2 separate regions of the Homo sapiens genome follow, and region 1 is reported to be linked to region 2. The links are microRNA targets in miRTarBase. Many come from high-throughput screens and were not tested one by one. Region 2 holds a microRNA gene; the other region holds the end of a gene's coding sequence.

Region 1 (4,390 bases), not on the chromosome of region 2:
CCCTCTTAACGTATTTTGCCGACGAAATAATCCTTCATTACATAAATTTTGTATATCTGTATAGTTAGGACAAAGTTAAGTTCAGAACACCGCTGTTGACACCTAATAATTTATTTCTTTTTTTGAGACAGAGTCCCACTCTGTCGCCCAGGCTGGAGTGCAGTGATGCAGTCTCGGCTCACTGCAACCTCTGCCTCCCAGGTTCAAGCGATTCACCTGCCTCAGCCTCCTGAGGAGCTGGGATTACAGGCATGCACTACCATGCCCAGCTAATTTTTGTTTTTTGTTTGTTTGTTTTGTAGAGACGGGGGTTTCACCATGTTGGCCAGGCTGGCCTCCAGTGATTGGCCCGCCTCCCAAAGTGCTGGGATTACAGGTGTGAACCACCACGCCCGGCCTGATACCTAATAATTTTTAAAATTGAATCGGTCCTTACAAGTTTGAAACATCACATTTATAAATCAATGTGTAGGGCAGAGAAGAAAATGTTAGGGGGACACATACAAGATTGCCATCCAGGGCACATTTGTTCTATCAATTCCCATCCCCACTCCTTCAACAGATTTTCAGCCCTAGATCTCTTGGTCCCTTAAGAAAAGGCAGCTGTGTTTGGTGTCTTTTTTCTTACCCTGTGTTTGGTTTCTGTTAGGTACAGGCTTTCTGTTGGCACCAACGAGAAGATCCAGCTGAGCTCCCTCATTGCTGCATTTCAAGTCACCAGAGACCTGATTGTTGCAGAGGCCTAGATGCTCTGAGGGCCATTCACAATTCTCAGGGCTCAGCAGTGATGGGAGAACAGAGGACAGTTCCAGGATAAACTGCTGCCTGGGGCTGTGGGATGAATCAGTCACCCCGAATCTTGGAAAAACCCCCTTCCAGGAGAGGATGGGCAGGCATTTAAAAAGTACCATTTTTGTGGTTGTTTGGAGCAGGGATGTACAAAATAATTTTAATGTATTAACTCATACTGCCTGTCTTTTATAGGGGAAAAAAATAACCTTTTTTATTTTAAAGTTATAAGGTTTTTACCTTTTAGTTGCTTGGATGACAGGGAATTAGCCTACCCCATTTTGGTCTGGAACAGAAGACTTTCAAATTTAATATGGTCCAAGTGTCTTCCTACTCAAGGTAAACATTATCTCCAAAATTACATTTATGATTCTAATATTTGGCATTGTGTCTGTATCTAATTTAAACAGATGTTAATGGACGTCTGGCCGAAACTATTATACTTTTATAAGATGAGCTGAATCCTCTTACTTTAAAAACTGGTCTTTTTATTTACCCTCTGTGGTAGAAGAGTCACCAGCAGGTTCCAAATTGATGTGTATGATAGGAAAAAAACCTTAATTTTAAATATAATATAGAGCCTTAAACTATGCCACTGGGTGGCAGAGGCTGTATAAAACGCACTTGTTTTCATGCAGGAGCGGGGCAAGTAAGGTTGAGCCTGACTGTAAACCTAGAACTGCGGAAGGACTGGGACTTTTGTACAAATTTCACATTTATTTTACAGCAATCATGCTGCATTTGTGTTAGTGTTCTTTATAATAAAAAACAAAGCAGCCTCCTGGCTGGCTGTGTTACAAGTGACTCTTCCTTAGACAGCTAGAAAGATGCTGACTTTGTCAAACTTGCATTTATATGAAAACCTTCTGTCTCTAATATCACAGAATAAACTTTCTTTAGATGCTGTTCTTTATAAAATGTCAAATTCTTAAACTGTCAAATGGAAAAAGTCACTATTCCCTTTGTTCATGGAGGACTCACCCCCTTAAGGACAGCGGCAAAGTATGAAGCTAAATATCTGATGGCCAACCAGGCCTCAAACCACCCAGAGGCTCAGCATCTGCTGTACCTGGAACTTCAAGATAACCATGAAATGTAAACGTTGGCCAATCCATTCCCAGCTCTTCTGCTGTACTACTTGTTTTATGTGTTTATTTTTTGAGGCAAGATCATGCTCTGTCAGTCACCCAGGCTGGAATACCGTGACACGATCGTGGCTCGCTACAGCCTCCATGTCCCAGGCTCGAGCAGTTCTCCCACCTCAGCCTCCTGAGTAGCCGGAACCACAGAACCACAGGTAAATGCCACCACATCCTCAGCCCCCTGAGTAGCTGGGGCTACCATGCACACCAGCACCACACTAAGTTTTTTTGGCTATTTATTTATTTATTTTTTAAATAAAGATTGGGTCTTATCTCACTCTGTTGCCCAGGCTGATCTTGAACTCCTGGGCTCAAGCAGTCCTCCCACCTCAGCCTCCCAAAGTGCTGGGATTACAGGCATGTGCCGTCACACCCAGCCCTGCTTGTTTTAAAAGGGGACTTTTTTTTTTCTTAATGGAAAAAAATGAAACAGAGAGCCAAAAGCTTTTAACTGTTGTTTTTTTCTTTTCTTCAATGAAAGCCTCTCATTTTGAAAAGACATGTTTTTCTTCAAGCAACAAAGGTGGTAGAGGAAATTCCTCAACTTTCTCAACGAGTCATGTAACGTTACACTGGCCTCCATAAAGCACCGATTAAGAAAGCTAAAGAATAAGATGTTGTATTTCTTTTAAAATAATTTAAAATATATTAAATTTTCCTAAGGCAGGTTTTGTTTGAATGAGGTGTCTTGATTAGATAACTACATGCCACTGAAGGAGAACAGTACTTTTAAGGAGCTATTTTTGTTTCGCAGTAGAGTTGAAACCAGCTGATTAATCCAATGAAGTTAAACAGCAGAGACAGATCTCGTACATAAGAGTATCAGCTAAAGTCATGACTACACCAATTCTTTACACAATTAAGACATCTTTGCAACTGTTCAATTTAAGTACTATGGTTTTTAGATAATCGAGAAAAACACAGTTGTACCTTAACATCTGTTGAGAAAATACAAATAAATATGATGCTAATAAATGGCCACTGATAACTCAGTAGCCATCTGAATAGTCATGCGGTTTAAGAATACATCCTTGTATAATCTGACATACAAATTTGTCATTTCCTGCACATGCACACCATTGTTAAAAAAAAAAAAAAAAAGCCAGTAATAGTGTCTGGATCGGTCAGGAGCACGGCCTCTGAGTCCCCTGTAATTTAGTTAAGCTAAATTAATACCTCATACCAAATGGCTCCAGGAAAACTGTCCTGCAGGTCAGAAGGGAGCCCAAGAAGAAAAGCACTTGGCCAACATCGAAGCAACTCTGACCACAGCAGGAGAGAACTTGAACCAATGCTACCACTGCATCAGAAACACAAGGATAGGTACTAGGCAGAAGCCATCGTTCCCAGCGGAGGGAGTGTGAGCTGCTCTGCCACTAGAGAGGCTCTGGAGGCCTACTTAGTTGCATAATCAAAACAACATCAGTAACTGCACTTTGAATCAAAACAAGCAGAAAGAGTTCAACACTTGCTGTTCATAACTGGACTGAAAATTTAACGTAAGGCTCTGTTGCCGTGCAAGTGGAATCTCTTCCTCTAAGACTGACTTTCACATGCCAGGGAGAGAAAGATCCATGACTAGTACACTGGAATCTGGTTTTGCTACATTCTATTCACAATCCCAAAGAAATGCTATTTCAATGCAAGACCAGATGTTTGGCCCATTATTCCAGCAACTCCCTTTGACAGGACGATTTACCCTGCTACAAAGAAGCACAAGATGTGGTGTTGCTTAAAAAGTCCTGTATGTGAGGAACTCTTTCATTTTCTTGGGGATTGGCAGTGCTAGGACTTGGTAAGTTGTTAGGAAACTTCGAAGGGCTTTCCGGCATAAGTGCTTCAGTGAGGACAGGACCCTAGGAGCTGTCCAGAACTGGACGTGGCCATCTCTTGTCCTAAAATGAAACAGAAACCGATGCTAAGACAGAGCTTGGATGTTCATGTTTTCATGAGGATGAATACTCATGTTTCTGTTTTGACTGCAAAGAGCAGGAGACTTCGGAGAGTGAAATGTAACCCTGACTGTGGAAATGGATGTAAAATTGTGGTGCTGAATAATTAAAGCTGCTGATAGGATTAGAAAAACTCAAGACACCTGTGATACCAAAGCGCTCTCTCTGTCTCTCTCTCGGCACAGCCCTTTCTAAATCTGACCACAGTTAGTTCAAAAGTATAAGGGGGAAGAGTGCCACCTACTGAATTATAGATGTTACCTGTAAAGTGGTCTTTTAGCCCTAAATGGTTTCCCATATATTATGCATCATCTCAATTTTATTCTCCCTTGTGAACTTGGCCCATTAGGTGGCATGACTTACAGATCTTTAATTACATTTAGGTTAAATATTCAGAGAAAATGGGACACCGTTATTAGCAAAATCGATCATTTGAGTTTTATATAATCTTGAATTGCCTTAAAGCTTTCCTCATAGGCAAGAAAATTCTAGATGGTTTCTTTCCTT
Region 2 (4,390 bases):
TGTGCCCGGGGAAACTGATGGCCACAAATACAGCATGGAAAGTATTAACAAGCTTAATATATAGCAATTTTTAAAAGGCACTAAAACCTTCACAGGAAAGTAAAAGAACATGAAGCAGTAATTTGTGTTGGATTATGATGGATAATAATCATATAAAAAGTTTCATTCTCACTAGTAATAGAAAAAAAGGCAAACAAAATCAAGAGCGTGTAAAAGATCTTCCATCTTGATAGACACATCCCTGGGGTGTGACGCAGCCTCACACGCGAGGGTGACGACTAAATCTCTCCGGAGAGTCATCTCACTCCAAGAGGGATCCGCGCCCGTAATATGTCCCAACCCTCTGCTGCCGTGAAATCACTCACCGCTTCTTGGAATCTCTTCTAAGGAAATAAGCAGAGATGCAGACAAAGATTTTTATAAACAGAAGGTCACTTTCATTTTATTTTAAATGGTAAAAAAAAAAAAAAGTAGTATTTTAAAAGTTTTTTCCCCTCTCAGGAATTTTGAATGGAGACTTTGGAGCCAAATGTCTATCTAAAAATAGAACATTCTGGAAATAACAGTTGTGTCTACAGAAGAAATGTCTGCAGCTCCCAAATCAGTCCTTTTTCAGCTCCAGCTGCACACATCAATAAGAAATTAGCAACGATGTAAATACCCGAGAGTAAGGAGGTAGATAAATAAAAGATGAGGAGGCTTCCTTGAGTTGAAATATTTTGCAGCCATTAAAAACGAAGTTTATGGAGTTTTAATGACGTGGGAAAGTGCTTCTGATGTGAGGTTAAATGAAAAAAAAAACAGTATGAAAATCTGTATTTTAGTACCACTGCGACTGTGTAAATATACAAACCCATACAAAAAGAGCTGAAAGGGAAAACACCAAATGGTAACGGTGTCTATCTCCAGCTAGTGGAACCGTGGGGGGGGGGTGTCTTTTCTTCTTTATTTATATTTTGTATGTTCTTGAATTTTTCTACAAAGATCACCAATTACTTTCAGAAAATAGAATATACCCATCCTGCTCCCCACCACAAAATCGTGTGGGTCTCTGAATAGAAGAGACAGCAGAAAGGCCAAGAAGAGGGGAACATGAGCCAGGGTGGTCACGGCATGGGGCGGGGGGTTGACAAAGTTGGCGTCAGACCCCCAGGGGCCTTGAATGCCAAGCCCAAGAGCTTGAACTTCACCCAGAGCCCTATCTTCTGCCCATGTTCAAAGAGGACAGAGTGCCCCTTCTTGACAGTTAGGGGCTTCCAGGGGTAGATACAGGTGGGAGAGCAGGGTATTGTGGAAGCTCCAGGTGCCAACCACCTGCCTCTATTCCCCACTCTCCCCAGGGAAGAGTTTCACCCTGACCATCACTGTGTTCACCAACCCCACCCAAGTGGCGACCTACCACCGAGCCATCAAGGTGACCGTGGACGGACCCCGGGAGCCCAGACGTAAGTGCCACCGAGCCCCCTGAGCCCCTGCGCGGGGGAGGAGGGTCCAGTGCGGGAAGGACAGCAGCTAGGTCAGACAGATGGAGCCCTCCTCGGGGGGTTGCAGTCCTTGGCTCTGTGCCCCCACACACTGCGTGCCTGCTGGCAAACCCCTAAACCCTCTGGGCTTAGCCTGAGACCGTGGGAGGCCAGCGAGGAGGCTGGGAGTGGAGATGACTGTCCATGGAGACTACTGAGGGAGTCAAGGAAAGGAAAAGGATGGAGAAAGCTTTCAGATATGGCATTTGTCGGGTGCTTGTGTGTTTCTGGGTGGAGGTTGAGCCAGGCTTGCTTTACTCTGCCCCCAGCTTCTCTGCGGGTGGCTGAGGGATGCATGGAGGGCAGGAGTGATCAAAAGTCAGGGGCTGGTCTGGCTGTGAGGCCAGGCCTCTTCCTTGGAAACTGAGTCTTTGAATCTTAGCATGTGACTTGCTCAGGTCACCCAGAGTCCGGGCACCCAGACCCTATGAGCAGGGAGTTCTGGTCCATCAAAGCGAGTTTGTGTTTAATTCTCTCTGCTTGCTGAAGGTCAGATTAAGGCTGGGGAAGTGGGAGGGTAGGCTGAGGCTCTGTGTCCACAGAATGAATGAATGACTGACTGACTGACTGACTGAATGAATGAATGAATGAATGAAATAGAGCCAGCCAGCTTCCTGAGCTCCATCCCACCTCCCCAAGGCATTTTCAGCTTGGTGCACTGAAGGTTGGCCCACCCCTCTCTTTCTCAGAAATGTGACCCTTTGTAGTTTAGAAGACCTTTTAGCAGTCACTATTGAATGGGATCTTGATGACAGCAGAGCCAGAGGGGTCACCCAAGTTCCAGTGAGGAGAGAATCCAGGCCTGAGGGAGTTGGGTACCTGAATAGGACCTAATGCTGTGCAAGGAGCAGGAAGGCGCCCCAGGCTTCAGTCTTCCCAGAGGCAAGATTCTAGGCTGAGCAGGCCTGGGGCAGGAGGCCTGGGGCAGGAGGCCTAGCCCTGGGCTGGCCCCTCCCTTCTTGGGAGTCAGCTGGGCCTGACACCCCATCATCCAATTCCTGGGCCCATCCCAGCATCTGGCCACTTGGGAAAGGCTTGGAGCTGAGTCCAGCAGCCCTGGAAGAGTTTCCCTCCAGGGCTCTCAGGGTCACCTCTGCCAGCCCTGAGCCCCGGCACGCATCCTCAGGCCTGCACCGTCAGCTCCCAGCCAGCACTTGCCCTGGCCACACTCCTGCTGGTTCCCTCCTGCTGAGATCAGACATAGACCAGCCCATGCCCTTGGCCTTGGGCTTCATGACCCTAGGCAAGTCATGTCTTCTTTGTGGCCTCAGTTTTGTCATCTGAGAACTGGATCAGTGACTCCAGGAGTCTCAAGGTGGTGATGGCTGGGAAGCCCTCATGAGCCATAGACCACCATGGTGTAGAGAGCAGTTTCCAAGCCAGCCTTCCTGGCTGTGGGTCCTTGGGCTAGTCATCTCCGTGCCTCAGTTTCCTGAACTGAAAAATGATATTCGCACAAGCAGCTACCTCATGATGCTATTGCGAGGAAACAGTGGCTTAATCTATAGAAAGCACTTAGCGGTGGGGGTTAGCAAGGGATCCGTCACTTTAGCCAGGGCTGTTATCTGCAGTGTGACCTAGGGCAAGTCACTGACCTCTCTGGGCCTCAGCTCCCTCCTCCATGAAGTGTGATGATGCCACCCACCCTGCGGACCTGGAGATCAGGGGCGACATGTGGACAGCACGTGGCCGTAGCACAGAGGGGTCCCATGAGTCACTGGGTCCGCAGCGTTTTGTCGTCCTCAGTACCCAGCCCCCTTCCTGCACTCCCACCACCACCATTAGTCAACGGTGAGCTCTCTCATGGGCAGCAGCTGGGTGGCTGCCTTGGTAATAGAGGTGCAGGTATCAAGTCTCCATTGAAGGAGGTGGCAGCCCTGCCCTATGTCTCCAGGGGCAGGGTCAGCATGGACAGGAGCCTCAGTTGGGCTCTGGGTGGGGATGCGGCACTCAGAAGCCACTCCAGAAAGAGGGGAGCCACTCCAGAAAGAGGGAGGCACGGGACGGGGTCTTGACGCTTGGTGGGAAGATCCAAGGGACCGGGCAAGGTTGGCCCCTCTGAGAGCCCTCCATGCTCAGCCCAGCCCACCCCAGAGCCGCCCACTCTGCCCTGCTGGGACCCCTGGATGAGCATGGAGACTCAGCCCTGCCTGTGGGAGATTCCAGCAGAATCCCCTGCCTGCTCTTCCCTGCCTGGGTCTCCCAGACCTGAGATGGCCCCTTCTGGGGTGAGCTGGAAGGTAAATGCGTGGCTCAGGACGAGGCAACAAGAGGGAGGGACAGAGGCTGGGCCTGGAGACCCACGGCGTCAGAAGCCAGGCTTGCTGCACCACCTGAGACAGGTGACCTCCCTCTCTGGGCCCCGGCAGCGGCTGGATCAGTGGTTTTATTTACAGAACAGAGCAGAGATGGAGTCGGGGGGCAGTCTACTAGGTCCCCCATCCTTAGGACCTGCCTGTTCCTGTCCCTGGCATATCCTGGCCCTGAGATCAGGTCCCCCCCCATACCCTGGGTTGCAGCCCCACTCCTTTGTCTTTGGCCCTGGACAAATCCTTGGCCTTTCGGGTCCTCAGCGTCCCCATCTGTAAGAGTGAAGGGACCAGCTCAGCGGCTCCTGGTCACTGAGCAACCCCCTCCCTTGCGTCAGGCCCTGTGCAAAGTCCCCAGTAACTGATCTCTTGGGCAACCCCAGGAGAGGATAGAGGCCAGGGCGCAAAACCTTTTGCCCAAGGTGACTGTCAGCACACCCTGGGGGCTCCGACCCGGGGGCTGCGGGAAGTGAGGGCCACTTGGAAGGGCCTTTTCACCTCAGTGTGCTCAGCTGTCAAATGGATGGTATTGGTGTCTGCCTAGGGGAGTCGCTGTGA

What was found. Region 2 holds the annotated microRNA hsa-miR-6731-3p (UCUAUUCCCCACUCUCCCCAG, at 1,320-1,340, shown strand). A microRNA usually pairs through its seed, bases 2 to 8, with sites in the 3' UTR of a target mRNA and lowers its output. Matches are read on the target gene's strand: a 7mer-m8 pairs with bases 2 to 8, a 7mer-A1 pairs with bases 2 to 7 and ends in A, and an 8mer does both.
Region 1: miRTarBase lists WSB2 as a target of hsa-miR-6731-3p. Seed matches in the 3' UTR shown: 7mer-A1 at 3,540-3,546.

Annotation. Positions count from the first base shown.
Region 1 is chr12:118,030,533-118,034,922 of GRCh38, forward strand. It overlaps WSB2 (WD repeat and SOCS box containing 2), which reads right to left. Exons shown (of 9, transcript NM_018639.5): 9 at 2,155-3,826. The coding sequence ends at 3,664. RFC5 (replication factor C subunit 5) reads left to right here. Exons shown (of 11, transcript NM_007370.7): 11 at 650-1,702. The coding sequence ends at 746. Among named protein-coding and RNA genes, the nearest start is that of RFC5, 16 kb to the left of the region's middle.
Region 2 is chr1:24,916,295-24,920,684 of GRCh38, reverse strand. It overlaps MIR6731 (microRNA 6731), which reads left to right and starts at 1,269; the gene lies at 1,269-1,340. RUNX3 (RUNX family transcription factor 3) reads left to right here. Exons shown (of 5, transcript NM_004350.3): 3 at 1,341-1,445.